Linked DNA regions of Homo sapiens. The protein of the gene in region 4 interacts with the protein of the main gene of each other region in a pairwise test. Each region holds a gene or a part of one and is shown on either strand. Other genes may lie near its edges.

The links.
Region 1: the proteins of INSIG2 (region 4) and BIK interact in binary tests that used the Homo sapiens proteins (3 or more experiments, as listed by UniProt).
Region 2: the proteins of INSIG2 (region 4) and TMEM52B interact in binary tests that used the Homo sapiens proteins (3 or more experiments, as listed by UniProt).
Region 3: the proteins of INSIG2 (region 4) and LAPTM5 interact in binary tests that used the Homo sapiens proteins (3 or more experiments, as listed by UniProt).

The regions. Positions count from the first base shown.
Region 1 is NC_000022.11:43,106,008-43,113,755, forward strand, and holds the start of BIK (bcl-2-interacting killer), read left to right. Parts: upstream 1-4,742; 5' UTR 4,743-4,796; intron 4,797-7,748.
Region 2 is NC_000012.12:10,189,025-10,192,330, reverse strand, and holds the end of TMEM52B (transmembrane protein 52B isoform 2 precursor), read right to left. Parts: intron 2,436-3,306; coding exon 2,191-2,435; 3' UTR 527-2,190; downstream 1-526.
Region 3 is NC_000001.11:30,754,757-30,762,567, forward strand, and holds the start of LAPTM5 (lysosomal-associated transmembrane protein 5), read right to left. Parts: upstream 3,019-7,811; 5' UTR 2,990-3,018; coding exon 2,903-2,989; intron 1-2,902. UniProt on the Homo sapiens protein: May have a special functional role during embryogenesis and in adult hematopoietic cells.
Region 4 is NC_000002.12:118,091,469-118,098,501, reverse strand, and holds part of INSIG2 (insulin-induced gene 2 protein), read right to left. Parts: intron 2,084-7,033; 5' UTR 1,946-2,083; coding exon 1,702-1,945; intron 1-1,701. UniProt on the Homo sapiens protein: Oxysterol-binding protein that mediates feedback control of cholesterol synthesis by controlling both endoplasmic reticulum to Golgi transport of SCAP and degradation of HMGCR.

The DNA.
Region 1 (7,748 bases), on a different chromosome or scaffold from region 4:
GCCAACGTGGTGAAACCCCATCTCTACAAAAAATTAGCCAGGCTTGGTGGCAGGCGCTTGTAATCCCAGCTACTTGGGAGGCTGAGGCAGGAGAATCGCTAGAACCTGGGAGGTGGAGGTTGCAATGAGCCAAGATTGTGCCATTGCACTCTAGCCGGGGCGGCAATGCGAGACTCAGTTTAAAAAAAAAAAAAAAAGTTTTCAGAGGATGTACAACAGCTCTGTCCATGGAGGGCCTCACAGCTTCGGAGCTGAGTCCAGGCTGGGTGTGCAGAATGCCAGCTGACGGATGTACTGCTGGCCAGCTGTGGGTCGGGGGGCAGCCTGGGTACGCCAATCAGTTGGACGGAGGCTGCAATACCTCTATTTAGGAGCCCTGGGCACTCTCGGAGACAATGGGCATTATTTTCCCTTCAATACCCCTCCGCATGGCTGCTAGATTCCAATTCCTTAACCTCTTGTTCCTTTCCAGCTCAGTGTCCTTCCATAGCTCCCCAGTACCGACAGGATAATTAGGCCACATTCACCTTTCTATTCTGGTTGGAATCCAGTCCCTTCTTTGAATTCCCCTCAAATATCTCCTCCTCCATGAAGCTTTCCCTGATATATTTGTGTCCTCTGTGGGAGCCTGGCGCTTAGTTTTCCCTTGCTTGACGCCACAGTCACTTTCTGTCTGTCCCTGCATTGCCACTGTCTTGAAGGTAGGCATTTGGCATTGTCTCTGGCTTGGCTCTGGCTTCAGTTAAGACCAAACATAGTTTTCTTCCTCTTCTAAAAAAAGATAATGTTTTTGCACGTTTATCTAGACAATCCGGAAAATACATGAAAACACAAGGCAGAAAACTAAACCACGGCTGGGAGCGGTGGCTCATACCTGTAATCCCAGCACTTTGGGAGGCCAAGGTGGGCGGATCCCTTGAGCCCAGGAGTTCCAGGCCAGCCTGGCCAACATGGTGAAACCCTGTCTCTACTAAAAATACAAAAATTAGCTGGGTGTGGTGATGCACGCCTATAATCCCAGCTACTCAGGAAGCTGAGGCACAAGAATCACTTGAGCCCAGGAGGCAGGGGTTGCAGTGAGCCAAGATCACGCCACTGCACTGCACTCCAACTTGGATGACAAAGTGAGACGCTGTCTCCAAACAAAAACAAAAACAAAAACAAAAAAACAAACTAATAGGACCAGGCGTGGTGGCTCACACCTGTAATCCCAGCACTTTGGGAGGCCGAGGTGGGCAGATTCCCTGAGGTCAGGAGTTCAAGACCAGTCTGGCCAACAGGGTGAAATCCCGTCTCCACTAAAAATACAGAAAAAAAAAAAAAAAAAAAAAACATTAGCCGGGCGTGGTGGTGCATGCCTGTAGTCCCAGCTACCCTGGAGGCTGAGACAGGAGAATCTCTTGAACACAGGAGGCGGAGGTTGCAGTGAGCTGAGATGGCATCACTGCACTGCAGCCTGGGTGACAGAGTGAGACTCCATCTCAAAAACAAAACAAAACAAAAACAAACAAACAAAAACTCAATACACCTGTATTAGTATTGAGTTTAATTGACATACCAAAACATGCACAGTTCCTAAGCATTCAGCTGTTTGCATACATATGCACCCCTGCAGCCACCATCTGTGTCACCCCAGAAAGTTCCATAATGCCCCTTCCCAGCCAATACCCATCTTCACCCTGGAGAGGGAGCCGCCAATGTCACCTCTAGCGCCATAGATTAGGTGTGCCTGGTAATGAACTTCATGATGCCCAGAGATGACTACTATTCCCATTTTGCTGTGCTATATTTCCTTCCAGACTTTCACACATGGATTTTTTTTTTTTTTTCTTGAGACAGAGTCTCGCTGTGTTGCCCAGGCTGGAGTGCAGTGGCACAATCTCGGCTCACTGCAAGCTCCGCCTCCCGGGTTCACGCCATTCTCCTGCCTCAGCCCCCTGAGCAGCTGGGACTACAGGCGTCCACCACCACACCCAGCTAAATTTTTTTGTATTTTTAGTAGAGATGGGGTTTCACTGTGTTAGTCAGGATGGTCTCGATCTCCTGACCTTGTGATCTGCCTGCCTCGGCCTCCCAAAGTGCTGGGATTACAGGCACCTGCCACCTTGCCCAGCCATACATGGATTTTTAAAGAATATAGGATTCTAATGGACACAGTGATTTATACAGCATGCCATTTCATTCAATAGATCATGCGATCATGCATCTCCAAGACAGTTTCCTTCGTGAGCTTTTTTTTTTTTTTAGACAGAAGAATCTTGCTGTGTTGCCCAGGCTGGAGTGCAGTGGCACGATCTTGGCTCACTGCAATCAAGGCCTCCCAGGTTCAAGCAATTCTCTGCCTCAGCCTCCCAAGTAGCTGGGACTACAGGTGAGTGCCATCACACCCGCTACTTTTTTTTTTTTTTTTTTGAGACAGAGTTTCACTCTTGTTGCCCAGGCTGGAGTATAATGGCGTGGTCTCAGCTCACTGCAACCTCTGCCTCCCTAATTCTCCTGCCTCAACCTTCTCGAGTAGCTGGGATTACAGGCATGTGCCACCCCGCCCAGCTAATTTTGTATTTTTAGTAGAGATGGGGTTTCTCCATGTTGGTCAGGCTGGTCTCAAACTCCTGACCTCAGATGAGCCGCCTGCCTTGTCCTCCCAAAGTGCTGAGATTACAGGCGCAAGCCACCGCGCCTGGCCTAGTTTTTTAATTTTTAGTAGAGATGGAGTTTCGTCATGTTGGCCAGGCTGGTCTCAAACACCTGACCTCAGGTGATCCACCTGCCTTGGCCTCCCAAAGTGCTGGGGTTATAGGCGTGAGCCACCATGCCCAGCCATCTCTTCCTCCTTTTGATCAGCATATTGTCTTGGGATTTTGCAAAGTAAATAAGTACTGTATTTGCACCCACTCTGCCCTTGAATCATCCAGTGTCCCCAAACGGTCCTTCTTTCTCCATCTTTTCTGCTAATGTTTACTGAACATCTCCTACATACCTGGCACTGTGCCTCCAGCCTTAAGACCCCTCTGCAAGCATCTCACATATATCAGGTCTTTCGGACCCATGAGACCCCGTGTCATTGCTTTACCTCCCTGAGTCTCAATTTTTTCATCTGCAAAATGCATTCAGAGGGAAGCCCCCATTATGAAGGGTTCCCTGCTCCTGACTGTAAGGCACTCTGTGGCTGTTAGCCACAGTCAGGGCGAGCTGCTTTGTAGGGGTTGATGTAGTTTGGAGGCCCTAGAAGAAAAGACTACAGGGCCGGGAGTGGTGGCTCACGCCTGTAATCCCAGCACTTTGGGAGCCCGAGGCCGGTGGATCACCTGGTGTCAGGAGTTCAAGACCAGCCTGGCCAATATGGCAAAACCCCGTCTCTACTAAAAATACAAAAACTAGCCGGGCATGGTGGCACACGCCTGTAATCCAGCTACTAGGGGGGCTGAGGCGGGAGGATTGCTTCAACCTGGGAGACAGACGTTGCAGTGAGCCAAGATTGTGCCACTGCACTCCAGCCTGGGCAACAGGGCTAGACTCTGTCTCAAAAAAACAAAAACAAAAACAAACAAAAAAACCCCACAAAAGCAAAGAAGGTCCAGAGCCCGGAAGGCGGGAGGGGCTCTGAAGACTTTATCACACTTTACCTCCTCTGTTCCTCCCAACAGCCCAGCTCTTGGTAGGTGCTGTTGTCCATTTCACAGATGAGAACATTGAAGGGGAAGTAATTACCCTAGAGGTGGGAAGAACAGAGTGAGGGTACCCAACAGGTAGCAAACGACAGAGCTGGGGGAGGGGAACCCCTGTCCCTGCCCCTCCCCTAATCTCTGAGGGGATCAAGACAGAAGTAAACAAGCTTTGCCGTGCCCAGGACAATTGTTACTTTGTTATTCCAGGAGCGCTCTGCCTTCTCCCACCCCCAATATACCCCAGGGCTGGAGTTAGGTCCTACCCATCCCCGCGTAGCAGGCTGCCCACCCGCCCACCCCGCCTGGAAGCTTTCTGATTTCTCTGTTCGCCCCGCCAGGCGCTGTGGGGTCCGTCTCACCAGGTCTGCACGTGAGCCCCCTGCCCCCAATCCCTCCCAGTCCCGCCCGCCTCTCGCGGACCCGGAGCCCCGACGGGAGGGGGAAGGCAGTGGGTGTGTCATGCAGCTGGAAGGCTGCGGACGGGCGGCAGTGGAGGGGCAGCCCCCTGGCTTCGGGTATGGATCACTGGATGCTGCTGCTAACCAAATGTGAACCTCGGTTTTCATATTTGTGAAATAGGCTTTAAAACACCTAAATCCCAAAGCTGCCAGCCTAAGGAGCACACGTCTTTGAACGCTGGCTTCACGCTGTCATTTAAGTCATTTCGTCCTCTTGGAGCCTCGGTTTCCACGTGGGTAAAATGATCGTGAAAAAAAGCACCGAGGAGTACTTTGAGCTCGAACGGAGGCCATCCGTGTAAAGGGCCAGATTCTGTCAATGGATCGATCCCCCCGATATTGATGGAAACCCCTGAGTGCACGCCCGTGCTGGGCGCAGGGGAAACAGCGACGCACGGGACAAAACAAGCTTGCAGAACAGCAGGGGGCAGAGAGGCTGTAAACAAGCCAACGGGCTGCACTTGTAGCGGTTCTGTTGCCAATGCCATTCAGACCCCAGTCCGGGATTCCGCGCTCGGGGTGCGAGAGGCCGCTCCCGGGGAGGGGCGGGACCCGGGCGGGGCGGGAGGGGCGGGGCGCCCGGGCCTATTAGGTCCCGCGCCGGCAGCCGGGCCGCAGACACGAAGCCTCCCGGGTGGCTTACAGACGCTGCCAGCATCGCCGCCGCCAGGTGAGTGCCCCCGACCCTGCTGCCGCCCGCTGCTCCGCCCAGCTCGAGCCCGGCGGTTAGCGCCCAGGCCGCGGCCCGGGTGCCGAGCGGCTGGAAGTGTGGGGAGCCGTGCCCAGGTTTTACCGCTCCAGCAAGTCGCTGGCGGGGCGACGTCTCGGGACTCCGGCTCCGAAACGTACCCTCTCTGTCCGGGGCTCCAGGTCCCCGACGGGCGATCGTGCCAGGCGCGGCCCCTGCGGGCCTCAGTCTCCGCGCCTGTGCAATGGGGTGGTCCCTCTGCGTCTCGCCGCGACGGCTGGACGCCCCATCGCCGCCGCACAGTCCTCCAGTGCGGCTTCCGGGCACCCGGCTCCGAACTCTGGGGTCGTGCGGACCCGGCCAGACCGTAGCGCGGCAACGCCAGCCCACGGCCGCGGCCGCACAGCCCCGGTGCCCTTAAAAGAGGGAAGATGGCGTCGTGCCCGGTGCCGCCGGGACCGGCTCCCGGAGGCGCTGCGCACCTGAGGAAGGGCCGAGGAAAGGCTTCGTAACGGGACGCCCAGAAAGTCCGGAACAGGAACGTGCACACGGAGCGGCGCGCAGCCGCCCGCCCTCGCTTGCCCACGCGCCCTGCACAGGTGCGCCCCAGACTGGGCGGGGACTAGAGCCCGGCTGGGGCATGCGACCTTGTTTGGTAAATTGGAGGTGCGCCCCTGCGGGTGACCCGCGAGGGGGCCCCCCGCCTGCGGGGCGCGGTCACGACAAGGCTTGTGGGGTTCGGAGCTGGTCGTCGTCTGGGCTCTGGCCTCCTAAATGCGATCGCTTTCAAGCCCTTCATTGTCAATTTTGCTAGAATGAGCCACTCGTGGGGTAGGACGTGGTTGTTGATGTTACTGTTGTAGCTCTTACTATTGTAACATTTTTGTTGCTGTTTTAACGCAGTGTTTACTGTGGTCTGGGAGCCCGAGCTTCCCAGGGAGCATTGGTGTCAGCCTCATGTCCCCGCATTAGGAGGAGCGCAGTCTGGTGGGCACTAGCGCCGGGAAGTTCTTAACATCTGTCTGCCCCTGGGAGCAGGAGGCCTCATCTTCCAGGTGGAGAAACAGAGATTTCAGTCCCAGGAGGCACAGAAATGCCAGGGTTGTCTAGCTAGAAGCCAAGGGCCCTTTATGGAACCCAAGCCAAAACCTCTTTCCACTCTCCAGCCCTGTGGCCTCGGAAGGGCCACTCCATCTCTCTGAACCTCAGTTTGTTCTGTTCACTCTGCAAAATGTATCCCTGAGGTTTCTGGCCAGGTGAAAGCCCCTCTCAAGTTAGTAGCCTCCCTGGAGTTAAGACTCACCCCGATTTCTACTTAATTTGGGCACGCCTTTGGAATAAGTTCTCAGGAATGGCACAGTTTGGGTGTTTTTTGTTTCTTTTTGTTTTTTTTTGAAACAGAGCTTCGCTCTTGTTGCCCAGGCTGGAGTGCAATGGCGCCGTCTCGGCTAACTGCAACCTCGGCCTCCTGGGTTCAAACGGTTCTCCTGCCTCAGCCTCCTAGTAGCTGGGATTACAGGCGCCTACCACGAGGCCCAGCTAATTTTTTGTATTTTTAGTAGAGATGGGGTTTCACCATGTTGGCCAAGCTAGTCTCGAACTCCTGACCTCAGGCGATCCACCCGCCTCAGCCTCCCAAAGTGCTGGGATTACAGGTGTGACCCACCCCGCCCGGCTTGAGTGTTTAAATACTCCTGCCTCAGCCTCCCAAGGTGCTGGGATTACAGACGTGAGCCCCTATGCCTGGCCCTTTTTTTTTTTTTAATTGTCTTAAGGATGTTAAGACTAAGATTCTCACACATTTGACTCGTGCCTGTAATCCTAGCACTTTGGGAGGCTGAGGCAGGAGGATTGCTTGAGCTCAGGAGACTAGACTGGGCTAGACCAGACTGGGTAACATGGTAAAACCCTGTCTCTACCAAAAATACAAAAAATTAACCGGGCATGGTGGCATGTGCCTCTGGTCCTAGCTACGCAGGAGGCTGAGTTCAGAGGCCTACCTGAGCTTGGAGGGGTTGAGGCTGCAGTGAACCCTGATCATGCCACTGCACTCTAGCCTGGGAGACAGAGTGAGACCCTGTCTCAAAAAAAGGAGCATTAGGCTGGGCATGGTGGCTCACATTTGTAATCCTAGCACTTTGGGAGGCCGAGGGAGATGGATCACCTGAGGTCAGGAGTTGTGAGACGAGCCTGGCCAACATGGCAAAACCAGTCTCTTTTAAAAATGCAAAAATTAGCCGGTCGTGGTGGCGTGTGTCTGTAATCCCAGCTACTTGGGAGGCTGAGGCAGGAGAACTGCTTGAATCTGGGAGGCAGAGGTTGCACTGAGCGGAGATCACACCATGGCACTCCAGCCTGGGCCACATAGGGAGACTCTCTGTCAAAAGAAAATTTAAAAAAGCATCAAATGGTAGATCCCCAGTGTCTGTTACAGCTTGGGTACTCTATGGCTGGATAGAGAGGCTGCATACATGTTAGTTATTGTAAGTTTGTTTGTTTTTTTGAGACGGAGTTTCGCTCTTGTTGCCCAGGCTGGAGTGCAATGGCTGGGAATACAGGCGTGAGCCACCTCACCCGGCTCAAGATTCTTACACATTTGACTTGCCTGTAATCCCAGCACTTTGGGAGGCTAAGGCGGGAGAATTGCTTGAACCCAGGAGGCGGAGATTGCAGTGAGCAGAGATGGTGCCACTGCACTCAGCCTGGGCTAACGTGAGACTCCATCTCAAAAAAAAAAAAATTACGTCTTGTGTCACAGAGCTGCAGATAAACCAGAGACTACTCATAACCGTGTACTTTTTTTTTCCCCCATTTCTGATCCCGTCTCAACGGAAGGATGTAATTGAGGAAGGGCTTGATTGGCCAGTGAGTCTTGAAGCTGACACCACTGCTGGTGGTATTTTCCCCTCTCCCTGGAAAGCATCCTGTTTTTAG
Region 2 (3,306 bases), on a different chromosome or scaffold from region 4:
GGTAGGGGCTAGGGAGTGGATGTGGGGAAGAGAGATTCCTTTAGGAATAGACATTATGTCTTATCCTTTAGGATAAGACATTATAGGCAAGATTTCCCCCAAGATATTCTAATGCCAATGAACATTTTACCTTTGCCAAGTCTGTGATGTCCTGGTGCCTTAATAGAAGAGCCTAGAATGTCTTTTGGAATGTGTCTTTGATGACTAAATGACTCATTTGGCAGCAGTAAAACAAGGTCCCTTCAGGCGCTATTAGCAATTCATGCATTTCAATAATTCCCAGAGCCAATTTGTTAAATGACTCAGGATAATTTCAGATCCCCAGCAGGTTATACTCAGAACATTTTTCCCTCCGGGCTGAGTGAGCATTCCAAGAATGTAGTTAACAAGGAGCTGCATAATCAGCCAATTCTTGGCTCTGTGTTGCCTCCTTGAGTTCTGGAGTTAATTAATTGCCTAATAAACAATTAGTTTTCTCAAATATTCCTTACCTCTACCCAGAACATATTACGAGGAATCACTTATATCTGTTGCTGTTTACCGCAATCAACAAGTATTTATTGATAAAAACAAAGCCATTTCAGGTGTGACAACAGTAACATAGTTGGCAAAAAGATAAATGGGAACATGGCTCTCAGATAAGTCATAGCAGGCAAGGGAAGGTTAGAAGACAGTAGGAAGAATAACATACATATGCATAACACTTTACAAATCATGCCACATATATTTAGCTTCTTTGATCTTCACAAAAACCTTCTGAGGTGTTATTATTTCCCATTTTTTAGGGAAAAAACGGCTTTAAAGATTTCAGGCCAGGAGCAGGGGGTCAGGCCTCTAATTCCAGCACTTTGGGAGGCCAAGGTGGGCGGATCACCTGACGTCAGGAGTTCTAGACCAGACTGGCCAACATGGTGAAACCCCCTCTCCACTAAAAATACAAAAATTAGCTGGGCACGGTGGCAGGCAGCTGTAATCCCAGCTAGTCGGGAAGCTGAGGCAGAAGAATTGCTTGAATCCGGGAGGTGGAGGTTACAGTGAGCTGAGACCATGCCATTGCATCCCAGCCTGGGCTACAAGAGCAAAACTCCATCTCAAAAAAAAAAAAAAGGATTTCAGTGACTTTTCTAAGGTGAGTAGTTTTTCCCTAAATGTGCGTCACTTCCTCGATTTTCCAATAATAATACTTTGGGAGGTGGTATGTTTTGTGGATAGATTAGCACTGTGCTGCGGCATGGTCCATGGGAAGCATCTCAACCAGGCTTAGTTCAGCATTTAGTTTTTGCTCCAAGAACTCGAGAGATGTGCAGATAGGCTCAAAGGAGAGAGTGTGTTTTCCACCATGGCTCCTCTAGGTGGCAGTGAGGGCCACCACTAGAGACTAGCGTGTGTCACTATAGAGGTGTTGTGGCTTTAAGTGGTCCAGGCAAAACAGGAAAGAAGTAAAGCAACACTATTCCTTTAGAGTTAAAACAGGGTGCAGGTATACATGCATGTGCGCACATATATGTGTTTGCAGTGCGGAGGAACTGAAGAATTAATCCAACTGTGACTGCACAGTATGGAGTTTTTCATACTGCTGAGGGGTAGGACCAGAGAGAAAGAAAGACTGATATTTGGCACTTAAATACTATACTGTGTTCTCTTTGCCCATATCAGCAATGCCATCCCTAGCTTTTAGATATCCGAGTGGGTATGTTGTGCTGTCTAAGATGATCATTGTCATTCGGTGTAAAATCGATTGCTGTCTCAGGAGGAAAGATGCATGCATTCAGTGCATTAATGTCGATGGCTGTGCTGACACTGTTGTCTTTCTTTTCCAGTTAACCGCAGTGGATTCGCTGACAGAGAGAGACACAACTTGCAGTATCATGTGGGTACAGGAATTCTATATGCACTCAATAGTTAAAGGAATTCAAGACACCTTGATGCTTTCCTGGTTTAGTAGTAATCAGTGTGGCTAGAGATTACTTGCAGATTTTGGCCATTGGATACAAAATTAGAGTTCCCAATTAGAGCATTCTGTATCGGAAGATATAAAGGCCTGTGAACGAAGAGTAAGAACCATCTTTCCCATAGAATGATGGTGTTAGATGCCATCTTAAAACTTCTGAGGGTTAGAAAAGTATGTGTTCCATTTTCCCACAGACTCTGGACATCACTCCACTCCTATTTATAAAATGACAGCTCTCATCAGTTCCAAGAGTCAACTATTCGAGTCGACTCCTTCTCTGTTGGAGGCAGCTGCTTTTCTTCAGGTACTGGGGGTAGATCAGGTGCTTTCTGCCCGCACATGGCTACTGTGAAGCGACTCATGTGAAGAGCTTCTTCATACCCTGGGAGGGTGTCCAAAGAGGAGGGCAGCTGGCCCAGGGAGCTGTGGGAGTGAGCCACAGCCAGGATCCTCCGAGCTGCAGGGCCAAACACCGACTGCAGAGCTGTGAAGAAAGAAGGAACAGAGCTAAGAAACTAAGGGAAACAGGACACCCTCAGACAGCAGAGACTTACTTCACACTTAACTGTCGCTTCATTTTTTACAAGTATCCAAACTCATTGTCACTCCTTGCCCCAAATTTTATGAATATCCTTTGAAGCATGTTTACAACCCAGCTTCCTGCTCTGCTAGAAGGACCTGTTTTCTCTGGTAACCTCAAATAATCTAAAGAATGTTTCTGTATCTCTCTCTCTCTCTTTTTTTTTTTTTTTTTTTGAGACGGAGTTTTGCTCTTGTTGCCCAGGCTGGAGTGCAATGGTGGATCTTGGCTCATTGCAACCTCCGCCTCCTGGATTCAAGTGATTCTCCTGCCTCAGCCTCCCAAGTAGCTGGGATTACAGGCGCCCGCCACCATGCCCAGGTAATTTTTGTATTTTTAGTAGAGACAGGGTTTCACTATGTTGGCCAGGCTGGTCTTGAACTCCTGACCTCAGGTGATCCACCCGCCTTGGCCTCCCAAAGTGCTGGGATTACAGGAGTGAACCACCACACCCAGCCAAGAATGTTTCTGCATCCTGCAACTCAACCCTGCCCTTTCCCCTTTCAGACTTAGATCCCTTTCCCCCAGCCCCCGATACTATAGACTCCTTAGGATTATTTATTTTTACCTCATCTCTTTTCTTTTTTTTTTTTTTTTTAGACAGTGTCTCACTCTGTCACCCAGGTTGGAGTGCAGTGGCACAATCTCGGGTCGCTGCAACCTCCACCTCCCAGGTTCAAACAATTCTCTCCTGCCTCGTCCTCCCGAGTAGCTGGGATTACAGGCATGTGCCAACGTGCCTGGCTAATTTTTTTTTTTTTTTTTTTTTTTTTTT
Region 3 (7,811 bases), on a different chromosome or scaffold from region 4:
ACGCCCTCATGACTCAATAGAGCGTGGCACTGTCTCAGGATGGCAAGGTCTCAATTTAACCCTCCCTAGAGGGGCCAAGTCCACAAATAGCTCATGATGTGCAGAGTCGTCACCCATGGCTGGGTCCAGATGACAGCCAGCATGGGCTATTGACACATCTGGACCACAGCTTCTCTTTTTCCATCCAGATGCTCAAGGTCCTATCAGCACACCTGTTGCCAGCTAGCCTATGGGAAAGCCCCCAGGCCCTGCCCTTTCTGGGAAGGAGAGAGGACTCTTTCGGGGTGCAGGAAGATAACCCCCCACTGGAGTCAACTGAGGACCACAGCCTGGAGACAACCTGGGCCGAGCGCACAGCTTCCAGGACACCCCTCTGCTCTTTTGCTTGCTCCTGCTCTAGAACGTCTCATCACTCATAGGCATTGGTTCTCAACTGGGAGAGATTGGGCCCCATAACTAGAGACATTTTTGGTTATCACAAGTGGCAGGGTAGGGAGATGGGCAGTGCTGCTAGTATCTAGTAGGTAGAGACCATGGATGCTGCTGAACTTCCTCTAACGCACAATTCACTCCCCCAAGATGAAGAATTATCCAGCCCAAAATATCAATGGTGCACTGCAGAGAAGATCCAACTTCTTAGCTTGTCACTCAAAACCTTTATCACCTCCTCCCCAAACTCCAGGTTTGTCTCTATTGTGTCCCTGTAGAAGCCGAACACATACGCCATTGCTCACCTGTTTCTCCTCACCTTCCATACTGCCCACAACCAAACTCTCCCTCCTGCCAATGGCACCACCTCCAAGAAGTCTTCCATGATTGCTAGGGCCCACACATTCTTCAGCTCTGTGAGCAGGGACCGTATATCACACCACCATTTACAGGTGAGGACATCGGATGGCACGATCAACAAGAAACCTTAACAGCCCCACAGTCCCGGGTTTGCAGGGCAGCCTCTGGGCCCACACAACCTGCAAATGGATTTGACTTGGCCTGCACTGAGATTTTTTTCTACCATGCATCAATCACTAGCATTGAAACATCAGAAGATGTGACACAAAAGCCTGCTCCCTATTCTCTAAACATCAGAAGAGCGGCCACCAGGGCCCACAATCCTTCGTGGCAACAACAAGCAAAAACAGAGAACAGCTGCAGGGTGGGCCAAGCAAGGGCTCCCGGGGTCACCGCAGGCCCCATCTGCCCCCTGCTGTCACTCACATGGCCTGCCCAGACCCTAGAGGCATCAGAGTTGGAGACCTCTGAGCCAGTCAACATCACCTTACCCCTGACTTTATAAAAGGGAAACTGAGGCCCAGAGAGAGGCTTGTCTGAGCCCATACAGCCAGTTAGTGGCAGGGCTGGGGTGAGGACCCAGGGACTTGCTACCTGTGAGGCGCCCCTGCATGCCACACTGTCCTTCTAAGAATGTGCATAGTCTCAGAGCTTGAAGGCCTAAAATACAGGGTACAGGGACACTCAAAGAGTGATTTGCTTCTCTCAGCTCTTGCATTGGCAGGAGCTCGGAAGGACAACCTCTGAGTTCCTCCTCCCAAAACTAGAGTCCTTGAATCTGACAACTTGACTCCAAGGATGCTGACAGCAGGTGCCATGTCTGATGCACAACGAATAATAAAGCACTCACCTGTGCGTCAGGCGTGGTTCTGCATGCTTTGTATGTATCAACTCCCTGAGCCTCACAACAAACCCTATCAGATGGGTATGATAATTCACATCCCCATTTTTTTAAATGAGAAAACTGAGGCTCAGAGAGGTTAAGTAAATTGCCCAAGGCTGCAGAGCTGGGAAGCAGGGAAGCCAGGATTTGCATGCAGGAGTCTGCATCCAGAGGCCGTGGGCTAACCACTGAACAGCATCGCCCCCCTGAAGGCTGGGCTCTTGCCACAGCTCTGCCTGCCCTGCCTGTGACAGGAAGCAGACGCAGGCAGGTCTGAGTTTGCAGCAACCCACCGCAGCATGTGGATCTAGGCTAATTTTGAGGAAGCCCTTCCAGACTCATGAGAAAACTGTTAACCACAGGCCCTGAGTCACCCCAGGAGGAAGTCGCTTGGGTCTAGGGGAGATGAGTGTGGCCAGGAGTTTGGGAGTAGGGTGGGTCTAGGCAGGACAGTACAAGGACACTGACCCTCAGCCACCCCAGGCAGAGGGGCAGCCTTGGCCCCCGGGCACTGTGACTTGCCCAAGACCACACTGTGAGTCACCAGGAAAGGAGGAACCAGTGACAGCCGTGACTTCACAAGTTGCCCAACAAGAGCTTGGGCCGGACAAGTTACCCTAATGATTAGCACAGGTCTCAAGTTCTCTTTGGTGGGCAGAAGGCCGTGGTTTGACTGAGCTGGAAGCTGAGAGGACACGGCCCCTGCCTCCCCACTGGAGGCACAAAGGGGAGATCCCCACTTCTCATCCCCTCGAGTGGCCCAGGCTCCCTCCAGGCCCCAGGGGAAGAATCGGGGCTGTGTCTGCGGCCGACCTCACATCCCGGTCAAACAATCCCAGCCCACGTTCCTCCCAAGATCCCTGCCTTCCAAAGCACTTTCACATCTGCTGTTGGCTTTGCACACAAATAACCTTCCGGCTGCTGCTGTGCCCCATCTCACAGAGGCAGAAACGGAGCCAGCCTCGGAGTGAACGTCAGTTACATTTGCCTGGAAAGTGGATTCCAGCTCCCTTACTCCTCACTCTTGCGGCATCTCCCCAGGGTACCCCCAGCCATTTGACAGAGAAGGAAACTGAGGCCCAGAGCAGGACAGGGATTTGCCCAGGGTCCCCCAGAGAGGTGGAGAGCAGGAGTTCTTTCATTTGTGGGGCTCCGTAGATGACGGGTCACCGCAGACATTCACACTCACACAAGCACGCACGCACACACACCCGGGGCCCGCACACTCACCACATGGTAGATGGCCAGGGCGGTGGTTGCGATGCGGACATTGAAGCAGCAGCAGGTCTGGCGGACAGTGGACAAGCGGGGGTCCATGGTGCTGCCGTCCCCTCCTCTGAGACACTGAAGGGGAAAGAGCCTGGTGCCTGGAGCAGGGCAGAGAAGGGGAAGCTGCTGGCTGCCCTCCTCACTTCCTTCCTGCCCCTTAGACAGGCAGGGACAAGGTCGTCACAGCTGGGGCGGGGCAGCTGGGGAGGGGGAGTGGGGACAGGGCAGCAGCCTGCCTCAGAGCACCCCACTGCCCTCTGCCATTCCCAGGAGGGGGTTCCAGAGAGGACAGACCCTAACACGGTCATCATGCCCTTCTCTGCACCAGGGCCAGGGTTCCACCGTTTCACACAGCTTGCTTACTAGAAGAACACTACCAACTTTGGAAGCCAGGACTGTTACCAAGCCCATTTCCAGATGAGGAAACAGCTGTCCAGAGAGGTCAAGGCACTTGCCCCAAATCACACAGTAGTTAGCACTGGTGGCAGAATTCAAACCCAGATCTGTCTGGCTGCAAAAATAGCTATTGTCTAGGAGGCATTTCCTGCCTCTTCCAGGCATGCTCCTGGATTCACTCCTTTCATCCTCACCTCAATCCTTTGAGAGAGGTACTATTATGATCCCCATTTTACAGATGAAGAAACTGAGGCACAGAGAGGGGGAATGATTCGTGCAAGGTCACACAGCTAGTCAATGAAGGTGCAAGGATTTTAACTGAGGCTGACTGGTGCTAGAAGCCTCCCTGGAGCTGGTGTTCTCTCCCACTTCCTCACCCTGAGCCGCAGGGAGAAGCTTGTTCTTCCTAAGCTACGAAGAGGCGTGCAGGGCTCCAGACAAGGACGGAAGAATAACCAGGAAGCAAACCCATCAACTGTGCGCCAGGCCCTGGGCTAGGCTTCTCTTCTAGGTGGGTCAATAACTCTTCACAGCAATCTGTGAGACCCGAACCTCACTTTCAGGGCCTCAAGACCCAATCCCCATACTCACACAAAATCAGGGATTGCTTTTCCCCCTTGATCTTGCAAAAAGTTGGAATTAATAAGCCACAACTCTTAGGCAAGCTACCCTGGAATCTCTACTCCCTCCTCAGATGATAAATTATCCATATTGCAATAAAGAAAGGGAATAGGAAGTACATGCAACATTTCTGGAAGAAGCCCTGCTTCATTCCACAGCTGAGCCCCTTTGCAATGCCAAGCTTCTAGTGCAGAGCAGACAGGAACTGCCATGAAGCCCTGCCCTCCCAGGAGATCATGGAGTTAGGATTGGACACTGCTGCAGCCCATCATTTCTGCCCCAGGAGAGGTTATAGAAAGTCCCTAAGCTCCTCCCACTTGGCAGGAGTTGCTCTGTTAGACCCACAAAACTTGATTGGTGGACTTGATCAATCCATTCTCCATGTGCCAATGAGACCAAGGGGACTCTGCAAGCTTTGGGCTCCTGGGAGGCCTGGCCTATCCCTTCCCAACTTCATTTTCAAGGCTGTTCCTGTTCCTTCATAAGCCTTGCTGAGGCCTGACATCATAGAAAGGTGACACAGTGCAGTGGTTAAGAACTTTGGCTCCACAGGCCCATGGCCTGGGATCTTCTGGCTGGGTAGGCAGAAAACCAAGAGAAGTCCTCCTTTGTCTAAGAGTAGCAAGACCAGAGGAACTGGAGATCAGGAAACCAGGGGCCAGGAGGGCCCTGAGGCCATGCTGGGGAGTCTGCATTTGATTGTGCACAGAAGCCATTTGACGATTTCCTACCATAATAAATGATAGCCATTCATAACATTGTGATTTGGTGAAACCAGGACAGGTGCAAAGCCAACTCCCAAAGAGAGGGATGAAACACACTGACAGCATGTGGAATAATTGTACATGGTCTATGGGTAAACATTTCTCATTTTTTATGGTGATAAATTCATTTTAATGTGCATTATAAAAATATACATAACTAGTCCATGAATCCTGTGATTTTCCATTTATAGGAGTAATATAAAGTCTCATTTTAAAAGAAATGCATTTAAATAAAAAAGGCAGTAAGTCAATTTAAAGAACATATTAAGGAAGCCACAGCCTAGGAGGACGCAGATGTGGCAGACAGCCCTGGAGGTGGAGTAGGTGGCATCCGTTTGGGAATCCTGGGGCATGGGGAATCCCAGCTCCCCACTTAGTAGCTGTGTGGTGTCAGACAAGGCACTTGATCTCTCTGAGCTGTTGTTTTCACCTCTGCAAAACGGCGGGGCGGTTGGGGGGAACAGAAATTTGCCTGGCAGGGCTGCGGTGAAGGTGAAATGAGGTCACGTGAATGCATCTGTTTGTTTTCTCCCTTCCAGCCCGTCCCTGCTCCCCGATCTCACCCGTACTCAGGCTGCTAGGAGGAGGCAGAGCTGGGATTGAACCCCTGATCTGTCTGATTCTGAGTCCCCTCGGGCACTACCTCCCTCGCAGAAGCAGGAGTTCTGATGCAGTCATTTGTCTCTCACCGGGTCACCAGGCTCCAGCACACACTGGCCCCTTGGCAGGCACCTCAGTCACTCCCTGTGGAGTACAAGCCTGAATCACTTTATTGTCATTCCCAACAAACCCCCTGTGGAGAGGACGGCTATTATCCCAAAGGTCAGACCCTTTGGCCAAAGCCACTGTGATAGGCAGAATAGTGCCTCTCACCCCCCAAAAAAAATCCACCCTAATCTCTGGAACCTGTGCGTACATGGCCTTACATGGCAAAGAAACTTCACAGGCGCCATGAAATTCAGGATCTTGAGGTGGGTGGGGAGATTATCCTGCATTATCTGGATGGCCCTGAGGTCATCAAATGGGTCCCCATAAGTGAAGGAAGATCAGAGTCAGAGAGGGAGTGGAAGATGCCACACTCCTGGCTCTGCAGTTGGAGGAAGAACCATGAGCCAAGGAGTGCAGGCGGCATCCAGAAACTGGAAAAGGCAAGGAAATGGCTTCTCCTCTAGAGGCTCGAAAGGGAATCACTTTCATTTTAGCTCAGCGAGGCGCATTCCTGACTTCTGGCCTCCAGAACTGTAAGACAATAAATGTCTGTTGTAGTCACTGTGTTTCTGGTCTTTTATTATAGCGGCCGCAGGGAACAAATACAGCTGCTCAGTGGAAGCAACAGCTGAGCCTGGGGCCCCGTCGCTGGAGCCCAACACACTCCACCGAGACCACAGTCCCCATCTGCACAAGTGCAGCCCTTACTTCCTTGCTGTGTGACCCCAGCCAAGTCGTGAACTTCCCTGAGCCTCCGCTTCCTCCTGCGCCAAGCGGGGATAATGATAATGCCCATCTCGTTGTCTGTACATGCAGGTGGCAACACCACATAAGCTCACTATTTATATTCTGCTGTTTTCCGTTACGAATGATAAGTTTTGAGCTTCTTCAAGTTGCTTTTCATACCTTCTTTGTGGAGTGGTAGAACCCTTGAAAACTTCAGACCCTCTGAATTCATCAAGATAAGGACAAGGAAATGTTCCATGCCACCGCAGCCACGGCAGAGCAGATACAAATCTGCTTGTCAAACTGCCCTTGTCAATGTTATTTCTGACAAAGGAATCTTCTAAGACCCCCTGACTTCAGACATGGTTCCCAGATCCTAGAGAGTCATCTTTAATCCTGAAAAGGTCTGTAATTCTGGCTGGTTATCTGGCTTAATAATTTGCTGCCATGGTATATGAATATTTAAACAGACAGCTCTGTTTCCTCAAAGGCAGAATTAGTTGTAAGCTTTCTTTGTTAAGTCAGAAGAACATCACTGGAACTTCCCTCTTCACCCATAGGCCTGGAGGTAAAAATAAAACCCACGACTCTGCCAGCTTTTGTATTTAAACAAAGAGTTTGGGAGTCTTGTGTCCTTTCCATTAACCTAGATGAAGCACTTAGAAGGGGCTGGGTCACGGTAAGGACTGCACAGTGGGAAGCATTTTGATCACGATTGTCACTATGATTCTTCCTGTCCTTTAAACCCTTTCTCAGCTGAGCCTCCCCCAGCCCTAGCCAGCAGAGGAAGGCAGCAGAGAGGCACTGATCAGCTCCCGTAGACCCAAGGGGCCAGTGATCTGCTGCAAGACACACAGCTGGTCAGGAGCAGAGCCAGGACACAGGTCCTCCTTGGGGACAGCTTCGTGGGCGGCATGTGAGTGGTGGCAGCCAAGGTAGCTCCAGGGCTGTCTTCTCCCGAGGGGCTCCTGGGTGCCCCCTGCAGCTCACCCAGGCTGAAGGTCAGCTTCCTGCCAGACCACTGGCCTGTGATTCCCTTCTGGCTGCAAGCCCCACCTCACTTCTGCCTTTGAGGTTTGGGGCTGGAATGTGTAGGGCCAAAGCCAAAGGCCTGAAAAATGTGAGAAACGGCAGAGCATTCTCTCCTGTCTCCTGCCCCGAACCCAGCACGGTCACCAGGGGTCAGGGCCTACACGTGCAACCCACAGGGTCCCTCCCCTACTCCCCTGCCTGTGGAAGGGGCCCAGGCCTTGAAGTCAGCCTGGAGGGTCAGCCTGGCAAGGACAGCCCACAGGCCTGTGGCCTGGGGACAACCAGACCTTCCAATGACCAGCTGCTGAGTCCAGTGGGCAGGCAGGGGACCCCAACGGTCTGCCAGACACTCCAAGGAGGCCTCCCCTCAGCCAGGCAGTCCAGGGGTCCCTGGCTGCACCCAGGGGCACAATGACACCATATCCTAGTCTGCTGCTGCCACAGGCACTGCAGGCTGAAGGCTCCAGGGAGATGGGACCAGCAGGCAGAAGGAGCACTGGCTGCAAAGTCTGCATAGCCGAGCCAGCAGCCTCCTGCTGAATAACAGCTCTGGGCACACCCCAGGACGGAGCATTTTAGATCATGGGTGCAGCCGTACTATCCATGGGGAGCTGGAAAACCCG
Region 4 (7,033 bases):
TCCCTTCCCCAGCATGTGACATGTGGACCCAGTCACACCACTCACTGGCTCTGGGACCCTGGGCTCACTGGTTTTCTTTCTTCATCTCAGTGAGTGTCCTCATCTCCCCATAACAGGCACAATGCCAAACATCTCTCTCCCAAAGTTGCTCTACAGAACCCTGGGATTACAGGATGTACCTAGCACATTAGCAGACATTCAATAAACAACAGTTTCCCTTCCCTCTGTTCTATCCTGAAAAGACATGTATGCTCTTCCATGTCCCAAAAAGCTTCTACTGGCAGCCAGACTATACTATAGAAGAAAAGAAACAAAGAACTAGAAAAGTTGTTGAGAAAACGTTTTCTCTTCTGAATTTAAATGAAAGAAAAATGCATGAGGACCAGTACATACAGCAGAGTGATACAATTTAATTTGTTTTTTATTTGGACTATTTTTTGCCTTTTCTCTTGGAGAATGATAACCCTGGGAAACTAAGAATCACTGCCTTCATGACTTCACTTTTAATGTGAACGATGTAATAGTGAGACATCAGTATATAAACACTGAAGCCTTACTACAACAGTGCCCCTCTAACTGTGCAACAGGATTCTATAATTGTCCAGCAAGTTTCACAAGGCCATTCTAACACTTCCGTAAAGCGCAACCTCATCCTTCAACCTCCCGCTCTTGGATGGAAGCCAAGAAGGACATATATTATGTTGCAAGATATTCATTCATATATGTTAAGTATGAGACACCAAATGGGTATTTAAAAAGCAATTTTCTCCTTCAATCAGAATTATCTTCTACCACATGATTATGGTTTCCTTTTATTACTTTATTATTAAAAACAGTATTAATCTATTGGTCTTGGTCATTAGAAAACACTAAAGTGCTATCCATTGTGGAAGTATGGCAGCAATAAAGTATTGTGAAATGCTCTACTCTATGCATTACACACTGCCCACCACCAAAAAAATATCTAAAGTAACTAATAGGATACTAATTTTAAGCAAAGAGAGTCTACCTTATAGATGTCTTTAAATATTTATTATTCTAAGGTACTTATAAAAACAAGATACCAAGGAAAAAAGCATTTACAAAAATACAACATGAAGCTTTAAACTTTAATTATTCAAGTTTTTATTACTTCAGAAACAAGACTACAGCACATGCATCAAACCCTTAAAACCAAATGGTGGTGCTCATCATCCAAATAACTTAAAATAACACTTAGATGAGATGGGTTGAAGAAAGAACAAAATTAAGGGGTTAAATGCTTCATCCCTAAGGGAAACAGGATTGTTTTTCAGAATTAAATGTTAAAAGTTTACAGGACAGATAGAATGAGACAGAAGGGAGTACATACGTTATGAGCCCATTTATATTGCATTCTAGAACAGAGATAAATAATTTATGGCAACAGAAAGCAGATCAGTGGTAGCCTGAGGCTGGGGGTGGGGAATGGACTGCAAGAGGACACGAGAGACTCTGGAGGGTGATGGAAATGTTCCACAGCTGGATTGGCAGTGGTCATGTGACTGTACGCATTTGCCTAAACACATCAAGTTGTTCAATTCAAACGGGTCCAGTGTATTATACCTAAATTATATCTCAATAAATATATTTTCTTTTTTAAAAAGGTTTATTGCTCAGACAACGTCCATACTCATTTACCCTATTTCCTTTCTAAGCATTACAGAAACATCCTACACATACCTGAAGCCGTGCCACAGCATGGGGGTACCCACCATGCAGAAGAAAAGATGCTTGCAATCACATCAGGTGGAAAGAGCGTCACATTTCTCTGAATCTGAAGTAAATTTAACACTAATGCAAGAAATACTCCAATAAAAAATAGCACTACTCCTCGAATCATCAAGTTCACACTCTGGCTAGTGACAGATGAAATATATGGGCCACACTTTTTGGGCCCAGGTGACTCTGTCTCTCCTTCTGCCATGGTTTCATAGGTTCAGAAAGCCGTTAAAAAAAAAAAAATGGAAAGGCTTCCCAGCTGAAAAGCTCAACTGTCTGTGAATCAAAGACTGACGCTTCAACGGTACCACATCTTGTCCTAAAGTAGGACCTACCAGAAATCCTGCAAGAGATAAGAAAAAAGAAATTAATGTGTATCTAATACATGATTATTGTAATTTTACTGATTTCAATACTAGTTAATTTAAATGGACAAATAAGAAAATGACAAGCTTGTATACTAATTTATTCAAATTACTAACAGTTATTTATTGAATAAGAAAAAGTTTTAAAAGTATTTTTATATGCAAGACGTAATAAAAAATAAAGTACTACCCTTACATTTCCTAGGACAGAAAACATGACCTAAGAGACCTGAAGGTTAGAATCATAGTAGAAACAGCTTGCTCCATCTCTGAGAAAAGCAGAACAGGTAATCTGACACTTCCACTAGAATCTGGAGGGTAAAACCCTGCTCTCTGTTTCTTCTCCCTAAATCTCTAAGCCTATCAGTTACAATACTGTATTTTATATTTTACAGATAAGCATATTCTGACTGAAGACGCTGTATATTTTGCAATAAAATGTTACTTGCTTACAAGGACAACCTCCACAGAAGAACAAAATAACCCGCTTTAATGTTTATTATTTGGTTATCCGCACAAAAACATTCTACAAAACCAGACCACCACGCACACACCTACATATACACCAAACACAGAAACCAGACCTGACTCACTCTCCCCAGGGGCACAACTGTATCCCACTCCTGTCTCAACAGTCTGCCCTTGTTGCAATCACAGAAGGGATTGTAAGAAAGCTGGAGGACGAAGCAAAAGAAAGGAAGTGAAGAAAATGAAGAACAATCTAATGGCTAGATTCTAAGGAGTTTTATCCACTTGGTCCCTGACTCCTAAAACCTAAAACTTTGCTACTACAATCAGTCTAGGTACTTGTTCATTCCTCTAACCAAAGTGATCTTTCCTTTTGGGGCTTTCTATGTGCTGTTTTAAGCACCTGACATGTGGTAATTCATTTAATCCTCACAATAACCTTCAGAGGTAAGTGCAATTATTATGTACATTTTATAGGTGACGCAAAAAAGCAAAGAAAGGTTAAGTCACTTGACCTAGTTCACATCTCCAGTAAGAGGCCAAGCTGGGATTCAAAACCATGCAGTCTGACTCCAAAGCCCTCATTCTTACCATGATGTTCAGTCTCCCAAACTGTCACATATTTGATATGTTTTCTATGAATACTAACAGTTTTTAAATGGGAAAAATACTACACAGGTAATTTACTTTTATCCCATCCAACAATATATCTTTGGCACTTTCATAAATCGGTACAGAAATGATATTTCCTTCAATCCAAAAGCAGTTTATTTTAAAAAGTGTAGCACTTATAATGACTACTTTCTAATTAAAGGTATAGTTGCTTTATGGATTGTAAATGTTTTATGAAGGTCTTATTCACTATTATATTAATATCACTGTGCCTATGCACCCAGAAAAGTTCCTGCTTAGCCCACAGTGGGAGCTCCACATAATCATATTTGCTTAATTAAATTGGGTTAACTCTTTCTGAATCAAACCATATAGGGTAAAGTAGGCCTTTTTGAGAGCAAACCTAGCTCCTAATCATCACATAAAATTTATACATTTCCTCTGAGTTTTCCAGTATCAAACAACCTTTGAATGAATTTTGGAACAAAGCCCTCATGTAAACCGCAGAGAATGGGGCTGAATTACAAATAACTAGTATGAAAATGAGAATATCTGTAAGTACTAGTAACCTCCACAACCTGTCAGTTCCATGTGATAAACACTTAGACAACGGGCCTTTTTACTGGGGCTATGCCACATCAAAGCTCTGTGTTCAACATTCAAGAGGAAATTCTGTTCCCAAGCTAGTCCTCACTGACCTACTTAGTCTATAATGTAATTGAACTCTATGGCTTAAAGGACTAAAAAAACTAATCCACAGTATAGCTAATTCATGGGAAAACATACTCTAAATACCAACTGAAAATGCCCTGAAACATCTCCTCCTGACCTGATCCTGCAGACCATTCCTTGCTGTGGAATCCAGGCATATGAGCATGCCATGCATTCTGGTTGCTTTCAGCAAGGTTCAGTAGCTACAGAACTCTCCATCATCATCATCATCATCATCTGGTTGCTTTTGGCAAGGTTCAGTAGCTACAGAACTCTCCTTCATCATCATCATCATCTGGTTGCTTTTGGCAAGGTTCAGTAGCTACAGAACTCTCCTTCATCATCATCATCATCATCATCATCATCATCATCTGGTTGCTTTTGGCAAGGTTCAGTAGCTACAGAACTCTCCTCCTCCTCCTCCTCATCATCATCATCATCTGGTTGCTTTTAGCAAGGTTCAGTAGCTACAGAACTCTCCTCCTCCTCCTCCTCCTCCTCATCATCATCATCATCTGGTTGCTTTCAGCAAGGTTCAGTAGCTACAGAACTCTCCATCATCATCATCATCATCATCATCATCATCATCATCATCTGGTTGCTTTTGGCAAGGTTCAGTAGCTACAGAACTCTCCTCCTCCTCCTCCTCCTCCTCCTCCTCCTCATCATCATCATCATCATCTGGTTGCTTTTAGCAAGGTTCAGTAGCTACAGAACTCTCCTCCTCCTCCTCCTCCTCCTCATCATCATCATCATCTGGTTGCTTTCAGCAAGGTTCAGTAGCTACAGAACTCTCCTTCATCATCATCAACATCATCATCTGGTTGCTTTTGGCAAGGTTCAGTAGCTACAGAACTCTCCTTCATCATCATCATCATCTGGTTGCTCTTGGCAAGGTTCAGTAGCTACAGAACTCTCCTCCTCCTCCTCCTCCTCCTCCTCATCATCATCATCTGGTTGCTTTTAGCAAGGTTCAGTAGCTACAGAACTCTCCTCCTCCTCCTCCTCCTCCTCATCATCATCATCATCTGGTTGCTTTCAGCAAGGTTCAGTAGCTACAGAACTCTCCATCATCATCATCATCATCATCATCATCATCATCATCATCTGGTTGCTTTTGGCAAGGTTCAGTAGCTACAGAACTCTCCTTCATCATCATCATCATCATCATCTGGTTGCTTTTGGCAAGGTTCAGTAGCTACAGAACTCTCCTTCATCATCATCATCATCATCATCATCATCTGGTTGCTTTTGGCAAGGTTCAGTAGCTACAGAACTCTCCTCCTCCTCCTCCTCCTCCTCCTCATCATCATCATCTGGTTGCTTTCAGCAAGGTTCAGTAGCTACAGAACTCTCCATCATCATCATCATCATCATCATCATCATCATCATCATCTGGTTGCTTTTGGCAAGGTTCAGTAGCTACAGAACTCTCCTTCATCATCATCATCATCATCATCTGGTTGCTTTTGGCAAGGTTCAGTAGCTACAGAACTCTCCTTCATCATCATCATCATCATCATCATCTGGTTGCTTTTGGCAAGGTTCAGTAGCTACAGAACTCTCCTCCTCCTCCTCCTCCTCCTCCTCATCATCATCATCTGGTTGCTTTTAGCAAGGTTCAGTAGCTACAGAACTCTCCTCCTCCTCCTCCTCCTCATCATCATCATAATCTGGTTGCTTTTAGCAAGGTTCAGTAGCTACAGAACTCTCCTCGTCCTCATCATCATCATCATCATCATCATCTGGTTGCTTTTAGCAAGGTTCAGTAGCTACAGAACTCTCCTCCTCATCATCATCATCATTATTCTTTATAGGGCACCCATTTATGGAAGGCCTACTCCCTGCCAGACATATAGTAACTCTACTCTTCAAAACAAACATAAAGGTAGACATTATCATCCTCATTTTACAGATGAGGCTACCAAGTCAAAGAGATTCAGCAATTTGCTTATGGTCACATGACATGCAGTATCAAAACTGAAATTCCACTTCAGGTCTGATTCCAAAACCCATCCTCTTGCCTCTATACCTTGAATTCCATTCCATCTCAACTGCTCAGACTTCTTTTTCGGCAGATGGTTCTATATAAAAGTGTTTGGTTACTGAAAAGATGGTTAGATGTTGAAATACCATCTCAACTATAATACACTCTCAGATAGTAAGCCAAAACAAGCAGGTGACTATACAATTGCACAAAGATGATGAGAATAAATGTAAAATCACCTTGAAATTTTCTTTAATAGTACTAGATCAAGGTGTGAAAATGTTTTAAAGTAAAAAGAAAAAATAGCAAACTAACACTCTGTATAAGAACATTAGTTGACTCTTTACTTCCCCAGATCCCAGTAGACACAGCACGTTGCCCTCACGTGCTGCTAACAGCTGCTAGAAGATGGGCATACTTTGAGTAACCCACATTGAGACAGCGTATCATTTGTTTCTGTTTGTGATTTTTCCAAAAGGGAATTAATGGAAAGGGGTATTTTATGTTTAATAGTATTTTTAAAAAGGAAAATAACTTCAGTTTAAAAAAGCTATTTCAGTCATGCTAGCCCCCATCTCACACTGACCAGCATTTGTCAAAGGGCACTGATATTTTAGGCAGGACAATTATTTGCTGTGTGAGACTGTTCTAAGCATTGCAAAACATTTAGCATCCCTGGCTCCCACCCACTAAATGCCCCCTCCCCTATTTGTGATAACCAAAACTGTCCCCACAATGAGAGCCACTGATTGCTACAGACTTCATTCTATTTCAAGACAGCTAGAGACTTTCTGTTTATTTATGTTTTCTACCACAGCTGCTTATTTAACCTTTCCTGGCAGTGCTTGTTTAGTTTTCTACTTCGCCCCAAAAGTTTTCCTTAAAAATAACACATTTGCTTGACATTTATTTGAATGAGATTCAAAAAGCTAATTTTGTAACTACATCATAATACAATAGTATATAATTACTGGTGACAAAAAATAAAAGCTTTAAGAAATAGCAGGGAACTGGGAAATCATCTATTCCAAGGGGTATGAGACCCCCATGCGAAACAAAACAAAAAAGTTGTATATATATGCATTTTTTTCTGGGATGAAAGTTCCATAATTTATATAAAGTACTCAAAAAAGTCCATGATCCAAACAAA